Linked DNA regions of Homo sapiens. The gene in region 3 interacts genetically with the main gene of each other region. Each region holds a gene or a part of one and is shown on either strand. Other genes may lie near its edges. The genes, in order: ZC3H11A, KHDRBS1, SREBF1, ENO3, KDELR3, PRDM4 and HECTD1.

Region 1 (3,500 bases), on a different chromosome or scaffold from region 3:
CATACATTTGCATTTAAGTACATCATGTAAAACATATTATGGGACTATGAAATACTGATCTTTCCAAATTTACCGTAACAGATACGTTTCTGTCCTTTCTTTGAAGGAAAGTTTAATTACATTGCTCTTCTATTTTTTTCCTTTGAGACTCATTGCTTGGGAAATGCTTTCTTTGTACTAAAACTTGATTCTGGCAGGGCGCGGTGGCTCACACCTGTAATCCCAGCACTTTGAAAGGCTGAGGCAGGCAGATCACAAGGTCAGAAGTTCGAGACCAGCCTGGCCAACATGGTGAAACCCCATCTCTACTAAAAATACAAAAAATTAGCCGGGTGTGGTGGCGGGCGCCTGTAGTCCTACTCTCGGGAGACTGAAGCAGGAGAATTGCTTGAACCCAGGAGGCGGAGGTCCAGTGAGCCAAGATCACCCCACAGCCTGGGCGACAGAGCAAGACTCTGTCTCAAAAAAAAAAAAAAAAATCACTACTGTATCAGAAGTGGGTATTTTGATTCTGTGGTTTCCTTAATACTACATCTTGAAATCAATAATGAATATTTCTTGATATTTGATGAATAGGACATTTATTTACTCAATTTTTTCAAAAGGAAAAAAAGGCATAAATTACAAACATATATTAAAAAGACGAGACAGGCCGGGCACAATAGCTCACGCCTGTAATCCCAGCACTTTAGGAGGCCGAGTTGGGCAGATCACCTGAGGTCAGGAGTTTGAGACCAGCCTGGCCAATATGATGAAACCCCATCTCTACTAAAAATACAAAAATCAGCCGGGCATGGTGGCATGCGCCTGTAATCTCAGCTACTTGGGAGGCTGAGACAGAAGAATCACTTGAACCTGGAAGGCAGAGGTTGCAATGAGCCAAGACAGCACCATTGCACTCCAGCCTAGGCAACGAGAGCAATACTCCATATCAAAAAAAAAAAAAAAGATGAGGCAAAAAAGAAAAAAATCCAGAACCTGCAGATTACATGCTTGCAAACTAGAAAATCTATCAACTAAAACAAATTGAAAATAATAAAAATGTAAGATCTACAAGAAGCAGTAAATTTCCTTCATACCAGCAATAATCATTCAGATGATGGCAGAGTACCACTCACAGTAAAAAGATATACAGGAAGAGACCATTCACAATAAAAAGATATACAGGAAGGGCCGGGCGTGGTGGCTCATGCTTGTAATCCTAGCACTTTGGGAGGCCGAGGCGGGCGGATCACGAGGTCAGGAGATGGAGACCATCCTGTCTAACACGGTGAAACCCCGTCTCTACTAAAAATACAAAAAAGTTAGCCAGGCGAGGTGGCGGGTGCCTGTAGTCCCAGCTACTCGGGAGGCTGAGGCAGGAGAATGGCGTGAACCCGGGAGGCGGAGTTTGCAGTGAATCGAGATCACGCCACTGCACTCCAGCCTGGGCGACAGAGCGAGACTCTGTCTCAAAAAAAAAAAAAAAAACACATATACAGGAAGAAAATGAAGAAGTATGCAAGACCCACATTAAATTAAAAACAAAACCAAAACACTATGAAACTACTAAGGCACAGAAGACCTGGATAATGAATAAATAGAGGATTAAAGAAATTACTTCTCCCCAAAAAATAATGCACACATCGAATGTAATTCAAGTCAAAATCCCAATTAGAGTTTATTACTGGAACTTGATTATAAAATCATCTAGAATCATTATTTAAAAAGGAATGGGAGGCCAGGCATGGTGGCTCACACCTGTAATCCCAACACTGGTTGGCCAAGGCAGGAAGACTGCTTGAACCCAGGAGTTTGAGAACAGCCTGGGCAACACAGAGCAACTCCATCTCTACAAAAGGTTTTAAAAAGTAGCCAGGTACAGTGGGGCACACCTGTAGTTCCAGCTACTCAGGAGGCTTCGGCAATAGGATCTCTTAAGCCCAGGGGTTTGACGTTGCAGTGAGCTATGATCATGCCACTGCACTCCAGCCTCAGTGACAGAGCACAAGACCCTGTTTCAAAACGAAACAAAATAACCCAGTGCTTTTCTCCAAGGAGATGGAATTACAGGAAGATTTCACTTTGGCTATGCTGTTTTTACCTTTTTTACAATGTACATATATTATCAAAACAAAGAAAGAAAAACTATGGGCCAGAGGCGGTGGCTCATGCCTGTAATCCCAGCACTTTGGGAGGCTGAGGCTGGTGGATCACCTGAGGTCAGGAATTCCAGACCAGCCTGGCCAAGATGGTGAAACTTCATCTCCACTAATAATACAAAAATTATCCGGTGTAGTGGTGCACATCTGTAATCCCAGCTACCCAGGAGGCTGAGGCAGGAGAACTGCTTGAACCTGGGAGGAGGAGGTTGCAGTGAGCCAAGATGGCACCATTGCACTCCAGCCTAGGGGACAAGAGTAAAACTCCGTCTCCAAAAAAGAAAAAAAGAAAAGAAAGAAAAAAATATGTTTCCATCCCAAAACTAAAAATTTGTAAACAATTATGTACAAGCAAAAATGTCTGAACAATGGCCTTTTAATTTCTTACTGATCCATGAAAATTATGCCTTAAATGACAAGAATGTTCACTCCTTTCATGCGAAAAATGCCTGCTTCCCCACTTACATTAGCTGGTTGCTCTGAACAGGAACATCTGTGTCTTCACTGAGTTCCAATCTATTACGCCTGTAGGTCGAACCAACACTCAATCCATGAATTAATAATAATGAGGCAGAAAAAAATTTCCTCCTCACATTGCCAAGAAAACCTCTCAGCCACAATTCAAACACAGCATGTGTTTTTAAAACATCTCCCAACTACTGGGAGATTAAGTCCATTCAAATAACCTTTGTCAGACTGGAGACAGCTAGGGTTAGTTATCTCCTCAAAAACAAAACAAAACAAAACAAAAAAAAAACAAAAAAAAAGAGTTCATTTAAAGATGAACTTGAGAGTTAAAGGATCATGAAAAAAAACTCCATCTTCCATAGCTGAACAATATAATTTAAAAAAAAAACAAAAAAACATCAGTTTTTCAGTAAGATCCAATTTCTGGTCTTCAAGATTTCTTCACCTATTAAGAAAAAAACAGAAACCTTCCCCCATCTTTATTATCTGTATAATAAAAGCATACTTGTATGTAAAAATATAGTGTTTTATGTATATAATATACATACAGATATATACTAACTGGCTTATACACACACACATATACACAAAAATGTATAGAAATATAACATTTGGATAAGTTTCCCCTTTTAAAATGCACTATAAAAGACTTTAGATTTGGGTTCATTATAAAAATAAAGAACTTACTCTTATACCAAAGTATCATGAAGTTATTGTTACACTAAATTTTGCCCAGCCCACAAAATAAAGACGAAGGTAAATCCTTACACATATATCATTATGTATAATATGGATGTATGTATATATATCCATCATCGTCATCAGGGAGTGTTTAACCAAAAAAGATAGAAACGTATGGTAATAGAGTAACTACAGAGTGGTGCAGCAAGC
Region 2 (3,500 bases), on a different chromosome or scaffold from region 3:
TTAAGTACAATTTATACCCTCAGACACTGGCATGTGGCCTAAAGGTAATAAAAGGGCTTTATGGGTGTCTCAGATGTTCAGTTGTCTGATGGTCTGGTCTTTCTTTTTTCTTTTTCAACTCTGTATGTCTCTCCTTGTCCTTGCTTTCCCCGGAGAGCTAGAGTAGACTGAAATGGGAAGACAAAAAATCAAGGAGGAGCTTCCTAAAAATGGTTTAACCTCAGGCAAAAGTACTTTCTAGACAACCCTTTTGGAACTGACTCCTTTAAGTAATCTTTGCTTGGGTCTCTGGAGACCTTGGATATCCCAAGGGCCAAAGAAAACAAAGCTGAGGTGTAAACAACACAAGAGGTGACCCATTTGTTTCCCAGCCACTCAGAATAATCATATCTTATCCAATGCCTTCTATGCGTCAGGAATTTTGTATTTATTATTTCACTTTGTCTTTGTAACCAGTATTATCTTCATTTGACAGATGAAGAAACCCGGGCTCAGAAAAGCTATATAACTTGTCCAAGATCTCAAAACTAATTAGTGACATAGCAGATACTTAAACCCAAGTCACTTCTTATACCAAAGAAAGTAAATTCAGTTAACCTTTCAAAATTTCCTTCATCTTTTACTATAACTTAACCTTTCCCACCCCCCACTTTTGTTTTTTTTGTAGATTTTATCCCAACCAGACTATAAGCTTCCACGTTGCTTAATATATCTTGGAGGAAAGACAAGGGTTTTGAAGCTAGACAAAGTGGGTTTGATTCCCAGCTCTCCTACATGCTTGGTGTATGACTTTAAAAGAGAATGTTAATAAGAAAAATAGTAAGAAAAAAAGAGAGAGGGCGAAAAAGAGATGTAACTCACACAAAAAAAGTTAATATTAGAGAAGTCTGGGAAAATTATATACCAACTTTATCAACTGGTCTGGCTTAACTAAAAAATCAATACAAATATATCATTAACTGAACTTTTTTTTTTTTTGAGACAGGGTCTTGCTCTGTCACCCACACTGGAGTGCAGTGGCGCAATTTTGGCTCACTGCAACCTCCGCCTCCCGGGTTCAAGCAATTCTCCTGTCTCAGCCTCCCGAGTAGCTGGTGACTATAGGCGCATGCCACCACACCTGGCTAATTTTTGTATTTTTAGTAGAGACGGGGTTTCACCGTGTTAGCTAGGATGGTCTCGATCTCCTGACCTTGTGATCCACCTGCCTCGGCCTCCCAAAGTGTTGGGATTACAAGCGTGAGCCACCGCGCCCGGCCAACTGAACGTTTGATATGGCCTGCATAAGGAACAAGACAATGGTCAAGATTTTCTAAGTATCCAGAGCGAGTATTTCTAGGAGAGCAAGATTCTCAGAACTGCTCTAAAAGGTCAGGGTTCATTTCATACCCTCCTCTAGACTCCCACTATACTTGGTTCTACACTTCTAAACACAGCACTCCTCCTTTGCCTGTTGTTAACAATCTCTGGACTCCTTCCATTGCTGAGTGTCTGTAATTCTTAGTACAGTACAATGCTTGATACACAACAGGCATCTATAATCATTAACCGAATTAAAAGAAATGTACCGGCTGGGGCGCGGTGGCTCACACCTGTAATCCCAGCACTTTGGGAGGCCAAGGTGGGCAGGAGATCGAGACTATCCTGGCCAACATGGTGAAACCCTGTTTCTACTATGGTGAAACCCTGTCTCTACTAAAGATTTAAAGATTTACTCTAGCTAAATCTAAAAACTGGTTGGGCGTGGTGGCGCGCTCCTGTAGTCTCAGCTACTCAGGAGGCTGAGAGAGGAGAATCGCTTGAACCCGGGAGGTGGAGGTTGTAGTGAGCCGAGATCATGCCACTGCACTCCAGTCTCCAGCCTGGGTGACAGAGCAAGACTCCATCTCCTTAAAAAAAAAAAAAAAAGAAATGTGCCGCTGGGTGTGGTGCCTCACGCCTATAATCCCAGCACTTTGGGAGGCTGAGGCAGGCAGATAACCTGAGGTCAGAAGTTCAAGACCAGCCTGGCCAACACAGTGAAACCTTGTCTCTACTAAAAATACAAAACTTAGCCAGGCGTGGTGCCGCCTGCCTGTCAAAAATTAGCCAGGTGTGGTGTCATGCGCCTGTAATCCCAGTTACTTGAGAGGCTGAGGCACAAGAATCGCTTGAACCCGGGAAGCAGAGGTTGCAGTGAGCCAAGATTGCGTTACTGCACTCCAGCCTGAGTGACATAGTGAGAACCTGTTTCAAAAAAAAACAAATACAAAAAAGTATGGTTAACACCCTCAACTTCCCTTAAACAACTCACATGACTTTATCATCCCCAAATTTATAATTCTCAACTTTTCTGTTGGTATCATCTTTTGGAATCAGAAGTCCCATAAGCTTACTATTGCAAAACAACTTCATTTGTTTTATTTATCAAATTACTTATTGTTTCAAGCAAGAGCACAAAGCCAATAGGTTCTTTATTTTTTTTGGAATCATGGGTCCCTCTGAGAATTTGATGGAAGCTACTGATTAGCAACCCAGAAAAAAATATAAACTCATAATATATTATATACAATATTGGCTATGGGTATAGAAAGGCTGGGTATTGGTTAAAAAAAAATCCCCCAAAGGCCTGTTACAAGCCCTTTCATATGGGCTCAATTTTTACATTCCAGGACAGTAGAAAACTCTGTCATATTGACTATGGTCTCCCAAATCTTTTCCTTAGTGCACAATTTAGAGCTTTGCAACTTTGAAAATTTTTTTTTTTAATTTTAAGGCAATTTTAGATTTATATGCAGTTCTAAGAAATAACAGAGATCCTGTATACTTTAGTTTTCCCCATAACATTTTGCATATCTGTATCACAATCAGAAAATTAACATTAAAATAAGAAAATTTGTTGTACAGGTTTCATGGAAAAAAAATTAACAATTGACTTTATTAGGATTTCACCACCTTTACATGTACTTGTTTGCTTAGTTCTATGCAATTTAATCAGACTCATGTGACCACCACCTCAGTCAAGATACAGAACAGTTCCATCATGAGGATCCTTACCCTTTGATAGCCAGTCACCGTTTTCCCTCATCTCTCACCACTGGCAACCACTAATATAGTCTTCATCTCCACTATTCTGTTTCTTCAAGAATGTTATATTAATGAAATCATATAGTATGTAACCTTTTGAGATTGGCTTTCTTCACTCAGCTTAATTCTCTTGTGATCAAGCAAGTTGCTGCATTTATTAACAGTTCCTTTTTTTTTTTTTTTTTATTGCACAGTACTGTTCCACTGTATGGGTGTGCCAGTTTATTGGAGGCATTTGGTTTGTTTCCAGTTTTTGGCTACTATGAATAAAGCTGCTGTGAACATTCATGTACAGGTTTTGTGTTGAGTTTTAATTTCCCTGAAATAAATACCCAAGAATGCAACTGTTGAACGATACGGTAAGCACGTTTTTTTTTTGAGACAGGATCTCACTGTTGCCCAAGCTGGAGTGCAGTGGCACGATCTCAGCTCAA
Region 3 (3,500 bases):
AATCCTGTGCCAGGCACTGGGGCCATTATAGATGAGGTGGTCAGGGCAGCCCATCTTAGGAGGTGACATCTGAAAGGAGGACTGAATGATATGAGGGAGTGGGCCGGAAGGGAGGGCAGAAGAAACAGTGTGTGCAAAGGCCCTGCAGTGGGCGTGGGCAGGATAGGAGGAGCGGAGGCAGTGAGGGGGTGGAGGCCAGGACGGCCACCAAGGAGCTGGGATTCCAACTCAGGTTGGTCTGTCATCTGAGCCAAGGACCCCAATTCTCCAGGGAATGGGTGGGAAAGGGATTTGCCAATTGATCCCTGCACTACAGACCACAAAGCTGCACCAACTGTGAAGAAGGGTCAGCCACAGGGGAGGATGTGGCACAGGTGCTCATGGGATTCCAGAGCACACCCTCTCGGCCTGCTAATGGAGGCAGCAGGGTGAGGATGGGTGCCCACCATCCCTCCAGGGAGCTGGGCTGCACCCCACCTGCTGTTCTGCTCCCACCAGGCACTTCCTTGATCCTCCTAACTGGAGTCGGCGGTCCTCGTGTTCTCAGCTGGTCGTGTATCCAGCAGTGGCACAGGCTGCCCTTTGTGCACTCATGGCTGCCCCGGGGGCACAAGTGTGTGCCAGCTCTTCCCGGAATGGGACGCACCCATGGCTGGAGCCCCAGGTGCACCTGGGCGCAGGTCCTCTTGAGGAAACTAAGGCTCAGACGGAGGCCTCGTGCCCAAAGTCCCACAGCTGCCATATGAAGAATCTGGTACACAAACCCCATTCTGCGGCCCCAGAGCCTGCCCTTCAGCCCCAGCCTGTGGGGGACAGCAGTGAGCCCCAACTCCGGCCTGCCTCTGCCCTGACCAGCTATCCTCATTTGTCGCAGTTCAGTGAGTGTGTGCAGAGTGCAAAGACAGAGAGGACAACACGAAGCTCTTTAAGGCTCAGCTCCGGCACTGCCTCCTCCTGGAGGCTTCCTAACCACCACCCCCCCAGACCTATCCACCTGCCCTGCCAAATTAGAGGCTGGGCCTCAGCTGGGGGCCCCTCCTGTCAGGGCCTGAACCAGCTGTGACCCCAGCCTCACCCAGCACAGGGCTGACCACAGCAGGGACCCCAGTCAGAGGCCGTGCAGACTCCAGCCATGGCTTCCTCCACCCTCGTCTGCCTCCACCCCCATCCCCTAACTGGTGTCTCCCTGGGCCTCCCTTTCCCTGCCTGCTTTCTGAACACCACAAGCTATTGAAGGCCAGGCTGTTCCCTCCACCAGGAATGCCCTTTCCACCTGGTGAATTCCTATTCCTCCATCAAAACTTGCTCTGATGCCACCTCCCATTCTTCCCTTGTCTGTGCCCCTCCACATGCCAGCTCCCAACATACTGACCGTCTGACCCTATAAACCTCAGAGCCACGTTTCCTCCTCCCCACTAGGCTCTTCCCGGAGCTACAGGTGTGCGGAATTACCCTCAGCAGCACCTGCGAGATGGCAATTACATGTGATGCTGGTCGGCACCAATTCAGACACCTTGTCCGAGAGGTGGCCCAGGGCACATACTTATCACTGGCAGCTGAAAACAACCCACGGGCCTGATGCAGTGGCAATTCTGGGAGTAGCCCCTGCTGCTGGGCACCTGTTTTCAGTCAAAATGGCAGTGCTAAGGTTAGGCGCAGGGGCTCACACCTGTAATAACAGCACTTTGGGAGGCAAAGGCAGGCAGATCACTTGAGCCCAGGAGTTCAAGACCAGCCTGGGCAATGTAGCAAGGCCCCATCTCTACAAAGTTTTAAAAATAGCTGGGCATGGTGGCATGAGCCTGTAGTCTCCATTACTCTGGAGGCTGAGGTGGGAGGATCCCTTGAACCCGGGAGTTCAACATTGCAGCGAGCTGTGATTGTGCCATGGTATTCCAGCCTGGGTGACAGAGCAAGACCCCGTCTCTAAAAACAAACTGGCTCACGCCTGTAATCCCAACACTTTGGGAGGCTAAGGCAGGCAGATCACGAGGTCAGGAGATCAAAACCATCCTGGCCAACATGGTGAAATCCAGCCTCTACTAAAAATACAAAAATTAGCTGGGCGTGGTGGTATGTGCCTATAGTCCCAGCTGCTTGGGAGGCTGACGCAGGAGAATCATTTGAACCCAGGAGGCGGAGGTTGCAGTGAGCCGAGATTGTACCACTGCACTCCAGCCTGGTGACAGAACGAGACTCCATCTTAAAAAAAAAAAAAAATATATATATATATATATATATATATATATGTATACACACACACACACACACTCACACATACACACACACACACATATATATATATATTTCTCCCTCTTGAGTTGTTTCTCTGCAGCTTGTTTTAAAGCTCATATGAAGGCAGCAAGATGTTTTCGAGCTGCCAGGCTCCAGTCTGGAAAAGATAAAGCCCTTTACAACCTTCCCTACAACGTATTCCCTTTCCTTCTAGCATCACCGGCACTGGGTGATGGTCATTGTCTTTTATGTACTTTTGGTGGCTTTGCTTAGTCCCAAGGCTGTGACCAGAACTTTGAAGGTGCTTTCACTCACATTTCCAAGGCTGCCTTGATGTGTTTTGCACAGAAACCGCCATCTGTGGCCAGATGGCCACTCTGCCCGTCCTCCCCCAGCCAGAAACACTGCTTCCTCAGCAGGTTCTTTTTGTTTGTTTGTTTTGAGACAGGGCCTCACTATGTTGCCCAGGCTGGAGTGTAGTGGTATGATCATGGCTCACTGCAGCCTCAACCTCCTGGGCTCAAGCAATCCTCCAGCTTTAGCCTCAGCCTCCTGAGTAGCTGGGACGACAGGCACACTCCACCATGCCAAGCTAATTTTTTTAGTTTGGGTCTCACAATGTTGCCCAGGCTGGTCTTGAACTCCCAGACTCAAGCGATCCCCCTGCCTCAGCCTCCCAAAGTGCTGGGATTACAGGCGTGAGCCACTGTGCCCAGCATCAATTATCTTCCATGGAAGCCAAGGATAGGGTGCTTGTTCCCCATGGCGGGGGGTGCTCCCCACTGGCCTAGTCAGCCCCATCCTGTCTCTCACCAACTCCAGACCACCACATGGTAGATGCTCAGAACTTGGAACCATAGCCTGGTACATCCTAGAAACTTCCAGCACAGGCTCCTTGGGTAATTGCTGCTAACATTTGTTGAGCTAAACCTATCGCGTGCCAGGTACTGGTTAGGTGCTCTAAATGGTGATTTGTTTGTTTTCTCTAAAACAAACAGGGCCTTGCTATGTTGCCCAGGCTGGTCTTGAACTCCTGGTCTCAAGCAATCCTCCAACCTCAGCCTCTAAAGTCAATAAGATTATAGGCGTGAGCCACTGCATCTGGCTAAATGGTGATAATAATAACACTAACTGGCATTGGTTCAGGGCCTACTATGTGCCATGCACTGCTTAAGCCTTCACTCATCGGATCCCCACAATTCCAAGAAGCTGCTTTTAGTACTGCTCCCTTTACATTGTTAAGAACCTGAAGGTTCTTGGACTTG
Region 4 (3,511 bases), about 13 Mb from region 3:
CACCCTACACCCAAATCATATTGAGAGTTTCTTTGAGGCAAAGATCTTGGCATTTCTTTGTATCTTCTTGAGTCCTTCTTAAACCAGTGCCTTCTTGATGAATGGAAACTCTTTGAATTTAATCTCAATAATAATGTTACCATTTCTTGTTACTTACTAGGAGGATTGCATAAGAGCATGGTCTCTAGAGATAGATTGCTGGGTTTGAATCCTGGCTCTGCCTGTTATTAGTTGTATGATTTTAGGCAAGTTCTTTAACTGCTCTGTCTCAGTTTCCCCATCTGTAAAATGGGGGGTAATAACGATACCAATGAATAGAGGTGTTTTGAGAATGAAATGGGCTAATACATGTAAAGTACTTAGTGCGTGGCATGTAGTAAGTGCTATATAAAAGTGTTAGCTATTATATACTAGGCACATGCTAAGAACTTTACATTCAATTTCTCTAATTTTCAGCAAAAGATCCTACAGGGAAGTAGGTGCTATCCCCATTTTACAGAAATGAGGAAAGAGAGGCTGGGCACAGTGGCTCACGCCTGTAATCCCAGCACTTCGGGAGGCCGAGGCGGGCAGATCACAAGGTCAGGAGTTCGAGACCAGCCTGACCAACATGGTGAAACCCCGTCTCTACTAAAAATACAAAAATTAGCCAGGCATGGTGGCACCCACCTATAGTCCCAGCTACTAGGGAGGCTAAGGCAGGAGAATCACTTGAACCCGGGAGGCGGAGGTTGCGCCATTGCACTCCAGCCTGGTGACAAAGTGAGACTCCGTCTCAAAAAAAAAAAAAAAAAAAGAAAGAAATGAGGAAAGAGGCTCTTGAGCAAAACTACTCATCCTAGACCACTGAGCTAGTAAGTAGGGAAGCCAGGTTTCCACCCCAACACCCCCCGCCCCTGTCCCTTCTTGAGCTCTCATGCCCCGGCCCAGGTCCAGACACCCTCTCCCCATCTCAGGCCTTCAATGTGATCAACGGGGGCTCCCATGCTGGAAACAAGCTGGCCATGCAGGAGTTCATGATTCTGCCTGTGGGAGCCAGCTCCTTCAAGGAAGCCATGCGCATTGGCGCCGAGGTCTACCACCACCTCAAGGGGGTCATCAAGGCCAAGTATGGGAAGGATGCCACCAATGTGGGTGATGAAGGTGGCTTCGCACCCAACATCCTGGAGAACAATGAGGGTCAGTGCTGAGCACCCTGGGGGGCAGACCCCCTGGATCTCCACATGGGCAGGGGAGGCTGCAGACAAGGGGCACTGGAGTCTCAGGTCCTTTCTTGGTCCTCCCCCAGCCCTGGAGCTGCTGAAGACGGCCATCCAGGCGGCTGGTTACCCAGACAAGGTGGTGATCGGCATGGATGTGGCAGCATCTGAGTTCTATCGCAATGGGAAGTACGATCTTGACTTCAAGTCGCCTGATGATCCCGCACGGCACATCACTGGGGAGAAGCTCGGAGAGCTGTATAAGAGCTTTATCAAGAACTATCCTGGTGAGGCGTTCGGGTGTCCCAGTGTTCCTGCCCGAATCCCGTGCAGCTGCCTAATATACTGATTTCAGTGACCTGCTTTGCCATCGACTTGGATCCTTCCAATTCTTAGCCCCATTAAAATCCCCATTTAAGCTCTTCTGCCCTGTCACCCCTCCATGAGGCTCCTTCTGACCTCTAGCCGTGTCTCTGCCCTGTCTCTGCCTTGTCTCTGCCCTGTCTCTGCTCTGTCTCTGCCCTGTCTCTGCCCTGTCTCTGCCCTGTCTCTGCTCTGTCTCTGCCCTGTCTCTGCCCTGTCTCTGCTCTGTCTCTGCCCTGTCTCTGCTCCAAACCCCACCAGTGGTCTCCATCGAAGACCCCTTTGACCAGGATGACTGGGCCACTTGGACCTCCTTCCTCTCGGGGGTGAACATCCAGATTGTGGGGGATGACTTGACAGTCACCAACCCCAAGAGGATTGCCCAGGCCGTTGAGAAGAAGGCCTGCAACTGTCTGCTGCTGAAGGTCAACCAGATCGGCTCGGTGACCGAATCGATCCAGGCGTGAGTGCCTCCTGACCCTGAGGCTCACCATAGCCTGCCTCTGCCCCAGCTCTGCCCACTCCAGCTACAGTCTTACCCACCAACTCCAAGCTTACCTTTCCCCTGGCACCTGACTTACCCACACCTTGATCTCAAGACTTTGTTTGACTAATCCTTGGCCTGACTCCAAGAGCTTTGCCCCTGTGGCTCTGTCATGACCCCCCACCCCCAGCCCACACCATTCCTCTCTCAGATTCCGCTGTTCTCAGCAGCATCTCAAGAGCCCGAAATCAAGATAAGTCTTTTCCTCTCCTACTTCCCAAAGAACTTAGTCACTGCCCTCCCTGCAGAGTGCTTGCTACCCAAAACAGAAGGGAGAGGCCCCACCCAACCCCTGCTTTCCCACTGAGGAGGTTCTAGAAGGCCACATCAAATGTCCTCTCCACTCAGGTGCAAACTGGCTCAGTCTAATGGCTGGGGGGTGATGGTGAGCCACCGCTCTGGGGAGACTGAGGACACATTCATTGCTGACCTTGTGGTGGGGCTCTGCACAGGACAGGTACTTGTAGCTTCTCTCTACTGAGTGTCTCACCAAGTTTTCTTGGGGTCCCTGGCCTCCTGCCTTTGAGGTTAATGCTCCCTTGGGGCCAGGTCCAACCCCTCCTTTCCAGCCTCACCTAACCCTCCAAATTCTTCTTCCCTCATCAGATCAAGACTGGCGCCCCCTGCCGCTCGGAGCGTCTGGCCAAATACAACCAACTCATGAGGTACAGCGGGAACAGTGGGCCTGGGCATTGGGGTGCTGGAGGCTGTTAGGTTGGAAGTTCAGCAGCCCTAACCTTGCCTGCATTCTAGGATCGAGGAGGCTCTTGGGGACAAGGCAATCTTTGCTGGACGCAAGTTCCGTAACCCGAAGGCCAAGTGAGAAGCTGGAGGCTCCAGGACTCCACTGGACAGACCCAGGTCTTCCAGACCTGCTTCCTGAAATAAACACTGGTGCCAACCAAGACAGCTGTGTGCTTCTTTGTGGGAGCTAGGGGATGCTGGTTTCTGGGCTGAGCTGGGGAAAACAGGAGGTGGCGAGATGGGGGCGGGGAGGGGAGGCAAATAGATATGTAACCTGCTAGGACAAAGAGGAGGTGAGGGACTCACAGAGGAAGCTGGGTGGTTCTAGAACAACAGAGGTGTTCACATTTCCAAAGGAGGTAGGGGAAGCAGATGCTATATGGTAAAATGAAGCTGCAGAGTTGCCAATGGAGCCGGGCATGGTGGCGCTCGCCTGTAGTCCCAGATACCTGGGAGGCTGAGTTGAGAGGATCGCTTGAGCCCAGGAGGTTGAGGCTGCAGTACACTATGTTCGTACCACTGCACTCCAGCCTGGGCTGCAGAGCAAGACCCTGTCTCAAAGCAACAACAACAAAAAAAAACAAAAACAAACAAAAAAACTAAATAAAGAGTTTCAGAGGGAATAAGAAACCAGCTCCAGGAGAGGGGAGCAGGGTGGGGA
Region 5 (2,926 bases), on a different chromosome or scaffold from region 3:
TAATTTTTGAAAGATTATACAGTACACTGCTTTTTTCACAGTGTAGCGTGAGCATTTATATAGAAAACTACTTTTAATTTTTTTTTTTTTAAGATAGGGTCTTGCTGTTGTCACCCAGGCTGGAGTGCAGTGGCATGATCATAGCTTGCTGCAGTCTCAAACTCCTGGGCTCAAGTGATCTTTCCATCTCACCTTCCTTAGTAGCTGGGACTACATACAGGCATGTGCCACTACACCCAGCCAAAAATAACTTTTTTATTTATTTTTTTGAGATGGAGTCTCGCTCTGTCTCCCAGGCTGGAGTGCAGTGGTGCGATCTCGGCTCACTGCAAGCTCCACCTCCTGGGTTCACTCCATTCTCCTGTCTCAGCCTCCCGAGTAGCTGAGACTACAGGCGCCTGCCACCACGCTCGGCTAATTTTTTTTTTTCTATTTTTCAGTAGAGACAGGGTTTCACTGTGTTAGCCAGGATGGTCTCGATCTCCTGACCTCATGAGCCACCGTGCCCGGCCAAAAATAACTTAAATGATAGTTTCATAGTATAAAATCATAATTGAAGCCACAGTTTCTTAAAATCTAGTCATGTTGCCAGGCTCACACCTATAATCCGAGAACTTTGGGAGGCCGAGGTGGGTGGATCACTTGAGGTCAGGAGTTGGAGACCAGCCTGGCCAACATGGTGAAACCCCGTCTCAACTAAAAATACAAAAATTAGCTGAGTGTGGTGGCTCGTGCCTATAATCCCAGTTACTTGGGAAGCTGAGACAGGAGAATCACCTGAACCCAGGAGGCAGAGGTTGCAGTGAGCTGAGATCCTGCCACTGCACTCCAGCCTGGGCAACAGAGTGAGACTCCATCTCAAAAAAATAATAAAAAATTAGTCATGTCCATAAACACCAGCATCAGAATCTCCCATGATGCTTGTTGCCTGCAGATTCATGGGCCACAGTCCAAACTTACTGAGTTGAAATTTCTGGGCCTGGACTGTGCTACAGGGATACAGGGATCTGCTAATCGGTTGAACAGAACGTCTCAACAGCCAGAAGTAGGGCTGTGATGCCTGCTTGGTTTATGGGCATCATGACTATTGAGATGTGCTCATTTCCAACTAAAGCATTGTAAATAGCTTGTCAATTTCTTCTCAACTTATAACTGAAAGATACATGAGTAATGGTCACAGTTGTAAGCAGAAGGCAAGCCCAGGGTCTGGAGGGAAGGATGCAGGGAGCATATTTCCCTTTGAGAACTGGTACTCAGTCCATTCCCTTACCTCCAGCAGAGTGAAACTGTAGTTTTCAAGGAAGGAAAGGCCAATGACTGGGACCAGAAGAAACTCCAGGCGGAATGTGTCATTCTCACTGTCAAAAGTTTTACGGAATTTCCCATATATCATGTACACTGTAACATAGGCACAGAGGAGAAAAACCACCTAAAAGGGGAGAGAGACATGGGAATCGAATCTATGAAGTCATTTCCCGGCCTATTTACTACGCTCCTAGCCTACCAAACCTAAGGGTCAGTGTTCTGCCATAATGTAACATGAAGAGGTTAAATGTGTTTGCAATTTATCTTGGGTCCAGTTGCCTAGAATTTGAAATCAGTGACCCTTTCATTAAATAACTCCATGCTTCTATACTGGGACTGACAGTGCTGCCATGAACAAAGGTGCCCTTGTCGTCCCCTTCATTTGTGGAGCATTAGGTGAAACAGGATTGGTCTATTTCAGGGGATTTACCAGAGGCATTCCAGGGCTCTTGAAACAATTTTAAAACAATTTCCTGGATATGCATCAGTGACTTCTGAGCATTCTTCCACAAGGACTAGCCTTTTTTTTTTTAAATGTTGCCCAGTCTGGCCTCAAACCCTGGGGTCGAGTGATCCTCCTGCTCCAGCCTCCCTAGAAGCTGGGACTACTTATGGCCTGCTAACATCCCTTGAACTAACTGACCATTGCTCCTTCAGAAAAGCTCTCCTAATCACAGTAGCTGTCCTCTGGCATATAATGATTTCATTTTGATATGGCCTCCAACCTTCCAGGCCAGCACTTCTCAAATGAGTGTGCATCAAAACACAGATGCTGCCTGGGTGTGGAGGCTCACACCTGTAATCCCAGCACCTTGGGAGGCCAAGGTGGGCAGATCACCTGAGGTCAAGAGTTTGAGACCAGCCTGGCCAACATGGTGAAACCCTGTTTCTACTAAAAATAAAAAAACTAGCCAGGCATGCATGCGGGCGCCTGTAATCCCAGCTACCTGGGAGGCTGAGGCAGGAGAATCGCTTGAACCCGGGAGGCAGAGGTTGCAGTGAGCCGAGATCATGCCATTGTACTCCAGCCTGGGGGATAAGAGTGAGACTCTGTCTCAAAAAAAAAAAAAAAAAAAAAAAAAAAAAATCACAGATGCTGTCTCTTCCCTTGCCCCAAGAGCTTTTGATTTCATAGGTCTGGATGGGCCTGAAAGTTTGTTCTTCCTTTTTTTTTTTTTTTTTGAGATGGAGTCTCGCTCTGTCGCCCAGGCTGGAGTGCAGTGGTGCAGTCTTGTCTCACTGCAACCTCCGCCTCCTGGATTCAAGTGATTCTCCTGCCTCAGCCTCCTGAGTAGCTGGGATTACAGGCGTGCACCACCATGCCCGGCTAATTTTTATATTTTTAGTTTCACCATGTTGGTCAGGCTTGTCTCGAACTCCTCACCTCAGGTGATCCGCCCGCCTCGGCCTCCCAAAGTGCTGGGATTATAGGCATGAGCCACCGAGCCCAGCCTTAAAAGTTTGTATTTCTAACAAGTTTCCCAAGTGACGCTGATACTGCCGGAGCAGGACCACACTGGCCTAGAGCACTCCTATTTGTACTCCTATTTGGAGTTATTTCCTCGAAGCAGTCTTTTTTTCACTACAATGAGGCACACATTCTGTCGCCATAGCTCCATGT
Region 6 (4,214 bases), on a different chromosome or scaffold from region 3:
CCTCCTAGGCTCATGAGATCTTCCCACCTCAGCCCCCAAGCAGCTGGGACCACAGGCAAGTGCCACCATGCCTGGCTAATTTGTTTTTATTTTGCAGAGATGGGGTCTCCCTATGTTGCCCAGGCTGGAGGTAGGTATTATTCTTAATCCCACTTTAAAGATGAGGAAACTTAAGATTCAATGATGCTAGGAAACTTAACCCAGAATCACATAACCAGTAAGGAGAGCTGGGATTTAAATTCAGAACTAATTTAAGAAACCAAAGCTCTTAACTATAGTAAGAAAAAGACAATTACAATAAAAGAACTATATTGCCTTTTACACAGTTGCAATACATTAGGGCCTATCTACTTATATTGTGGCGTATATTTAAAGTTCCACATAGACCTGTTTCTTGCATTATTAGGTTTCACCCTTATCCCTGGCCATGGATCCCATAAAACTAAGCTCTAAGACATCAATAAAATGTAAAAGGCCAACCTAGTACCTTGTATAGAACAGACATTCTGAATTTTCTTATTTTATCGGATGGAGCTATGCAAACTCATCACCCTTACCAGAAAGACAGCTAGAAGCACCTGGCAAATGAGGTACACCTTATGAAGAACAGCATGCTAATAACAGTTTTTATTATGCTATAAAATAAAGCAGCCCAGGTGTGGTGATTTACACCTGTAATCCCACACTTTGGGAGGCCAAGGCAGAAGGATCGCTTGAGCCCAGGACTTGGAGACGTCCCTAGGCAACACAGTGAGACCCCTGTCTCTACTAAACATTTTTTTTAACTTAGCCAGGCATGGTGGTTCGTGCTTGTGGTTCCAACTACAGGGGAGGCTGAAGTGGGGAGGTCGGGGCTACAGTGAGCTCTGCCTGTACCTCTACACGCCAGCTGGGGTGACAGAGTGAGACTGTGTCTTAAAAACAAAAAAAGCAAAAAATCCCTGTAGCCTAAAGAAAACATATCTACCTTAATTTTGAAAGTTGCTGGGCTTGAGTTGGTTTAAAACAGACTTTTCCCTAACTCTTTATAGCTACAACCATAATTAAAACACTACAATCACTACAGCTGTAACAGCCTACTTAACAAATTGGTTACAATATTTTTTTAAAAGTACAACTACAAGTCTGCACCTTCAACTCTCATTCTGAAAATTCCTGAATATTTATTTAATTTCAAGATAAAAATCAGCATGGTGTTTCTAGGTTGACTCCTAGGCCTTCTCAAACCAGTTCAAACCAGAGTTTAATGCGAGAGGCTCAGCAGATTTCTGCTTTGTTGTGAGTCACTAAAACGTGATGACCTCAGCAGCCATAAACCAAAGGTAATGAGTATCCCACAGAGAGAAGGCAGATGAAGGGAATGTACAATATGATCCTCATAAGACTTTCTCATTCTAAAATGCAGTTCTATTCTCATTTTCTTTCTCCTATGAGATTCTAAGAAGCAATCCCGGAAGAAGGCAAGAATCAAGATACTAAGCTCTATCTTCCCTACTCATTTAGGGTAAAATAATTTCCTACACAGTTCTACAGTTTATGTGTGTGTTTCTAACTGACCTATGCAACCATCTGCCAGTTGCTGATTTTACACCTTTTTCTTCGCATAAAATATAATAAACTAACTGAAATGCAGCCACTTTGAAAAATGCAGTGGGGCTTCAATAATTTCAATGAATTTGTGCCTTATCTTCCTTATTCTAAACATACGGCCTTTGAAAGGGCCTTGAAAAAACAGCCAAATGCAACAATTTCTGTGGCCTGCTTCTGTACTTAAACATCAGCATGAAGCTTGCAGAATTAAGAACTTAATTCCCTCACTATCGTCCCTGCCATACCAGCAAAACTCAAGGTGAAGCATAATAAGATAACAATACACGTTGGAATCCGGAAAAATATATTAAACGCTCAAATAACTGAAAGACACAGGAAAAGGTGTCAACAAGCCAACAATAAACGTGTGGCTACTGGGAACAACTTTCCACATGTGGAGTAAATTAGGATGCATGAGATTACATTCCACCCAACACTAGTTTCTGGATTTGTTTCCTTTGCAAATCACACCTGTAACCTTCTCAATGGCACCAAAAACAACGGCACTGACCCTGGACACTCACTCGCCAGAGTTTCCAACGATGTCACCAGTGCTGAAGCCCACCTCCCTACTCACCTGTGATGCATCGGCTTGGGGCCAAATATCAGAGAAAGGAGCGCTCGGGTGGTGGGGAACAGGCATCAGGGTTTGCGTTCCAGGGTCACGTGCTACCACATCTTGCTCACAACCGCTGCACCGACGCGGCCACTCGTCCCCGGGGTCGCCCGGGGCCGCCCAACTTCTCCCGAGGGCCGGTGGCCGTGCACCCCGCCACGGGTTGGGGCATCTCGGGGAACACCTGGGGCCTTCCGTCCAGAAGCTTCGGGAAGGGGGCTGCCCAACCTGGGGGAGTGGGGACAAGAGCGGTCACCAAAACCACAACAAGGTCGCAGCCCCCATCCCAGCTACCCGAAAGCCCCAGGCGCTGCCGACACCGCCACCCAAGGGCTGTGGATTAGCCCGCCCGCGGCCCGCAGGCCGGGCCGCCGCGCCCCGCCCCGCTCCGGCCGGGCCCGCGCGCAGCCCACCTGCCAGCTGCGCTGGGGGCGCACGCGCCTGCCCCACTGCTTTGTTCCTCATCCGGGCAGAGTTCGCCTCGGGGCCCTGCCCGTCCGCTCGGCCCCCTCACCCCGGGGGCCGCTGCCCTAACGTTTCCCGTCCCGCCCGGCCCTTCCCGGCCCGCGGCCTCCTCTGGGCCGCACCCTCTGCGGCGCGTTTCCGGATCCTCAGCCACTCTCAGCGCCCGCCGCTCCGCCCCTCGTGCGTGCGCCCTCCCCGCCGCGGCCCGCAAGCGGCGCCCGCGCACCGCGTCGCCCTTCTCCCAGCCCAGGCCCCTCCGCGCGTGCGCACGGCAGAGGCACTGGCCGCGAGAGGCTCGGCCGGGAGTTCCGCGTCTCCATCCGGCCGGGTAGAATCGAGCGCCGAGCGATCGGCCCATGGTTGCTAGGCGACCAGGGCTGCTGTTCCTGCAGGGATTGAGTTTTGAATCCCCTAAATCCCGCAGACTCAGGATTTCGTCTTCATGACATTCCCCTACTAGAGAAGCATGGGTCCACACAAAGCCCCCAAAATTCGAAGTATGGGATTTGGCCCCGAGGGTTGCCTCTGCTGCCCAGGAGGAATTGGGATTCTATCCTGAATATTTTCGGCCGTCTGCTACACCTGAAGGCTGCCCAGTTTCCCTGCTTCCCGTCGTAAATGCTGGGGTTTGGGATTTTAAACAAAATTTCCTTCCCCTTTTCTCTGCCCTCAGTTCTCTACTGCGCGCCAGGCACTGTGCCTAACGCTAGGAGTACCGAGATGGCTTTAAAGGAAGGTGGTCCCAAGCTCCTGAGCAGTAGACGTTGAAATTACACCACACTGCCTGGTGGCTCCCTTACACCAGCAGAACAGCAGACCCAGGAATTCTTCCTGTCATTCACAAAGCGTCTGTTGAATTACATCTCAAACCTAGGGATACAGAGCAAGGCACAAGCCCTGACCTTCACCTGCCTGCAGTCTAGTGGGAACTGATGAATTTTGAAAATTCAGTCTAATGTGAAAGGGTAGAGGCACATGCAACCTTTTGGACGAGAGCTGGGAGGGGTGTCAACCCCCATAATGTTTCCCTTCGTTTACTTCTCATGGGGGGAAAGCACATTCCAGATGAGGAAACTTCACTGAACATTGGCAGGCAGGTCACATTGGTTTTGCTCTCTGTTGACAACAAATAGAAATCTAAATCAAGAAGGTCATCATCTCAACTGAGAGACAGTATTCCCTGAAATGCCACTTCAAATCTGGAGCCTAGAGAATGATGATGTATCTTATTACCGGCCGAATGCTTTCACTAGGTTTGGGTTTGGATGTCTGTTCTTTTGGAACAATTTTATTAAGTTGAGAGGTGAACATAAAAATCAGGTCACATAAATGTAAGAGCTAAAACCATAATACTTACAGAGGAAAATAAAGGCAAAAATCTTTGTGACCTTGATAGGACAAAAAAATCACAAACTATTAAAAAATTGGAGCAAGTGCAGTGGCTCTCTCCTCAGCACTTTGGGAAGCTGAGGTAGGAGGATCGCTTGAGCCCAGGAGTTTGAGACCATCCTGGGCAACAAAGTGAGACCCTGTCTCTACAAAA
Region 7 (3,500 bases), on a different chromosome or scaffold from region 3:
GGATCTCACTTACATCCTTACTTATATATCCTTATAGATACAATAGTTAAGTTGTGGATCTGGTGTTTTTTTAAAAAAATAACACAAGTAACTGGTCAGTTCTAGCTGAGGCATACTTTAAAACTGAACCCAACCATTGGATCACAAGTGTGTGAATATATATTTCTTCTAGCCTTTCAATTTTAATACCCGTATTTACTATAGAAAAACACATTTCTTTATGTAGTAATTTCAGAAAACTTTGGATGATTCAAAATGACAAGTACCTGCTAAAGCTCTTAAGTCTGATGACTGCATTGAAATAGTCACATGACACAGTTCTGTACGCTGCAAACATTTTAATGATTATTGTTGAGCATACATTTTGGAAATTTTTTACTTCAAACGGCAACAAGTTAAATAAATGTTTATAATATACAAAGAAAATACAACCGAAAGTAAAACTCGCTGTAAGTGTGCCTTGCACTTAGACCAGGTTTTCCCCCCTTAATACATCTTTATTTTTGAGCTGCAAACACACTTAAGACTTTGATCTTCATAGTATGGCATTTAGGAAATAAAAATATACTCCCACCTTAAAGAAATAAAAAGTTTGGTGCATGATTATATGCCAAACAAAGAGAGAACACTAGAATACTCTTGATAGTGCAGGCATCATTAAAAAGGAAAAGAAAAAGCTTGAGATGCTCATTAATTCTCTATGTTTTAAGGAAGCAGGATTTTTGACCAAGTAGCTTAAAAGCCAGCAAAACAGGGATCAGTGACAGCAACTGTAGTGTATGGAGTATGAAATGACAAACTTTACACAAATACACTGTTAGAAATTTACCAGTGAACACTGAAGATCTGAGAAGCTGCTCTTTGGAACAGTCAAGTGGGACCACCTTATTCCAGTCACATAAGCCCTTGTAAAGTAACACAGTGTTCTGTGCTATATACTTGCTGGCTGGGTAGTTACAGGATTTGTTTTGTCATTAGCAGCTAAAAAACTTATTCCACATGTTCTTAAAGCCTTAATGGTGGAAAAAAAGGCAAGTGTCATTAGCATGGTGGATCATATACTTCTCTGCACACAAACACAAGAGGCTTCACTAGTATTTTTAAAGTCTCTGATGTCTCCCATTGCACTTCAAAGCTCAATTGAGATGAAAGCCTTTCTCCATTGTAGCAGCTAGCAGGCGCTCTCTCATGATCTCCTCGGAAGAATATTCAGGCAACTTAAGGTAATGCACACATGTATTGACTGATGGATAGCTTGCATCAGTAGCATCAACCTACAACAAGAAAGCAAACACAACAGAAGACCATGAGTTTAAATACTTCTTTCTTTCAAAAGTAAAGTAACTAAATTTCATTTGGATTCCCCATTAGCCAGAGAGCTTGTACCTTGCGTACAACCGTGAGCCTGGGATGCAGGTTAGCCAGTCCACCTGGGGGTAGAGTTGAACAACCAGTGGTAAACTGCAAGAATGCTTTCCTTTCATCAGAAGACATGCCACATAAAACCCTCACAAACCTCAGGAAACCAGGGCTAAAAGAACAAAAATATAGTTATATTGAGTTGACTGCAGATTTAAATGAAAATCACTACCACTATTTTCTAAGGCAGCAACAAGCCCCCTAAAAAACAATATCCTCACACCAGAACAACAACACATCTAGAGACTCTTGGTTAAGTATGAAATGGGCTAATATAAGCTACTTTAAAAATATCCCGGGCCAGGTGTGGTGGCTCATACCTGTAATCCCAGCACCTTGGGAGGCTGAGGCGGGTGGATCATCTGAGGTCAAGAGTTCAACAGCAGCCTGACAAACATGGTGAAACCCCATCTCTACTAAAAATACAAAATTAGCTGGGCGTGGTGGCGCACGCCTGTAATCCCAGCTACTTGGGAGGCTAAGGCAGGAGAATCGCTTGAACCTGGGAGATAGAGGTTTCAGTGAGCTGAGATTGTGCCATTGCATTCCAGCCTGGACAATAAGAGCGAAACTCCATCTCAAAAATAAAAATAAAAATCCCTCAAAGACTGTCTTGAACTTACAAATTGTAAGAACTAAAAAATACTGACAGTGTATGGGGTCCATCTATTCTGCAACAAAGTCAGCAAATCATAAAAACACAGGATGCACTTGCAAAATCATTTCAAATATGGATAAATATACCAAAGGGGATCTGAAATAATTTTTATTCCAGCAAAATAATTATCTTGTGATAAATTTATGTAATGAAATAGTAAATGAACGACATGCCACAACATGGATAAATTTCATAATCATAATATTACTCAAACCAGACCACAAAGAAAACAGACTACATGATTTCATATATTAAAAGTTCAAAAGCAAGCAAAACTGATCAACATATGGTGATTAGATTAATAGAAAAGAATATGGTGGGAAGGGGGATTTTTGAAGTTGTTTCATATTCTGGATACCAATTATACAGGTGTGTTCATTTTGACAAAATCCTCTAAACTGTATATATGATGTGTGTACTTATCTGTTATATTCAATAAAAAGTTTAATATAAACGTAGTATATAGCCCAACAGCTTACAATTTACCAAATTTTAAAAATGAACAATTAAAACACAATGAGGAAAGGAATCAACATCAGCCATGATGTCAGTTGTCTTTTTTTTTTTTTTTTTTTTGAGACAGAGTTTCACTCTTGTTGCCCAGGCTGGAGTGCAATGGCATGATCTTGGCTCACTGCAACCTCCACCTCTTGGGTTCAAGTGATTCTCCTGTCTCAGCCTCCCAAGTAGCTGGGATTACAGGCGTCTGCCACCACGCCCAGGTAATTTTTGTATTTTTAGTAGAAACGAGGTTTCACCGTGTTGGCCAGGCTGGTCTCAAACTCCTGACCTCAAGTGATCCGCCCGCCTTAGCCTCCCAAAGTGCTGGGATTACAGGTGTGAGCCACCGCGCCCGGCCTGCTGTCAGTTGTCTTTTTGTATCCTCCCAGCCTTATCAGTGGATATGCATTCTGGTAACTGTGAGACACCACTGCTTTCTCACTTACTTTATGATACTCACTGAATTAAAGTTCTTTAGAGAATCTGTCATTTGATTTGGGGAATATAAATAATTTTGTTGATCTTGGAAAATAGTATCACATACCTGTCACGTGTATAACCCAGCTTAGGTTCAGTGTAATTGATAATATCCTCTGCTGCCCAGGATGGTGACTGGTTTCCACAAAGAATCATTTGGACTTCTTCATGGCTGAAGGAACTTAATTTCTCCATTGGAAAAACTTTATTAAACCCATCTACATCGTACATGTAACGGAAACACAAAAAACAAACATACAACTCAGTTTCCAAGTTACGATTCCAAAATACCAAATTTCAAACCAAAATACCCATTATCAGAATCAATCTAAGTATCTATCAAGGGATGAATGTGTAAAGAAAATGTGGTATATGTACACAATGGAATACTATGCAACCATAAAAAAGAATGGGCTGGGCACGGTGGCTCACGCCTGTAATCCCA

What was found.
Region 1: changes in SREBF1 (region 3) and ZC3H11A together harm fitness more than expected from each alone (negative genetic interaction), as found in Homo sapiens cells (one large-scale study listed by BioGRID).
Region 2: changes in SREBF1 (region 3) and KHDRBS1 together harm fitness less than expected from each alone (positive genetic interaction), as found in Homo sapiens cells (one large-scale study listed by BioGRID).
Region 4: changes in SREBF1 (region 3) and ENO3 together harm fitness more than expected from each alone (negative genetic interaction), as found in Homo sapiens cells (one large-scale study listed by BioGRID).
Region 5: changes in SREBF1 (region 3) and KDELR3 together harm fitness more than expected from each alone (negative genetic interaction), as found in Homo sapiens cells (one large-scale study listed by BioGRID).
Region 6: changes in SREBF1 (region 3) and PRDM4 together harm fitness more than expected from each alone (negative genetic interaction), as found in Homo sapiens cells (one large-scale study listed by BioGRID).
Region 7: changes in SREBF1 (region 3) and HECTD1 together harm fitness less than expected from each alone (positive genetic interaction), as found in Homo sapiens cells (one large-scale study listed by BioGRID).

The regions. Positions count from the first base shown.
Region 1 is NC_000001.11:203,802,123-203,805,622, reverse strand, and holds part of ZC3H11A (zinc finger CCCH domain-containing protein 11A), read right to left. Parts: coding exon of another isoform or gene 3,431-3,500; 5' UTR 2,607-3,430; intron 1-2,606. Other genes in the region: uncharacterized LOC128031836, read right to left, coding at 3,431-3,500. UniProt on the Homo sapiens protein: Through its association with TREX complex components, may participate in the export and post-transcriptional coordination of selected mRNA transcripts, including those required to maintain the metabolic processes in embryonic cells.
Region 2 is NC_000001.11:32,020,368-32,023,867, reverse strand, and holds part of KHDRBS1 (KH domain-containing, RNA-binding, signal transduction-associated protein 1), read right to left. Parts: intron 1-3,500. UniProt on the Homo sapiens protein: Recruited and tyrosine phosphorylated by several receptor systems, for example the T-cell, leptin and insulin receptors. Once phosphorylated, functions as an adapter protein in signal transduction cascades by binding to SH2 and SH3 domain-containing proteins.
Region 3 is NC_000017.11:17,826,987-17,830,486, forward strand, and holds part of SREBF1 (sterol regulatory element-binding protein 1), read right to left. Parts: intron 1-3,500.
Region 4 is NC_000017.11:4,954,119-4,957,629, forward strand, and holds the end of ENO3 (beta-enolase), read left to right. Parts: intron 1-956; coding exon 957-1,179; intron 1,180-1,288; coding exon 1,289-1,486; intron 1,487-1,823; coding exon 1,824-2,025; intron 2,026-2,454; coding exon 2,455-2,563; intron 2,564-2,712; coding exon 2,713-2,771; intron 2,772-2,859; coding exon 2,860-2,929; 3' UTR 2,930-3,011; downstream 3,012-3,511. UniProt on the Homo sapiens protein: Glycolytic enzyme that catalyzes the conversion of 2-phosphoglycerate to phosphoenolpyruvate. Appears to have a function in striated muscle development and regeneration.
Region 5 is NC_000022.11:38,478,096-38,481,021, reverse strand, and holds part of KDELR3 (ER lumen protein-retaining receptor 3), read right to left. Parts: intron 1,430-2,926; coding exon 1,271-1,429; intron 1-1,270.
Region 6 is NC_000012.12:107,758,338-107,762,551, forward strand, and holds the start of PRDM4 (PR domain zinc finger protein 4), read right to left. Parts: upstream 2,801-4,214; 5' UTR 2,620-2,800; intron 2,435-2,619; 5' UTR 2,179-2,434; coding exon 2,168-2,178; intron 1,632-2,167; exon of another isoform or gene 1,435-1,631; intron 56-1,434; exon of another isoform or gene 1-55. UniProt on the Homo sapiens protein: May function as a transcription factor involved in cell differentiation.
Region 7 is NC_000014.9:31,099,794-31,103,293, forward strand, and holds the end of HECTD1 (E3 ubiquitin-protein ligase HECTD1), read right to left. Parts: intron 3,274-3,500; coding exon 3,123-3,273; intron 1,532-3,122; coding exon 1,387-1,531; intron 1,275-1,386; coding exon 1,137-1,274; 3' UTR 324-1,136; downstream 1-323. UniProt on the Homo sapiens protein: E3 ubiquitin-protein ligase which accepts ubiquitin from an E2 ubiquitin-conjugating enzyme in the form of a thioester and then directly transfers the ubiquitin to targeted substrates.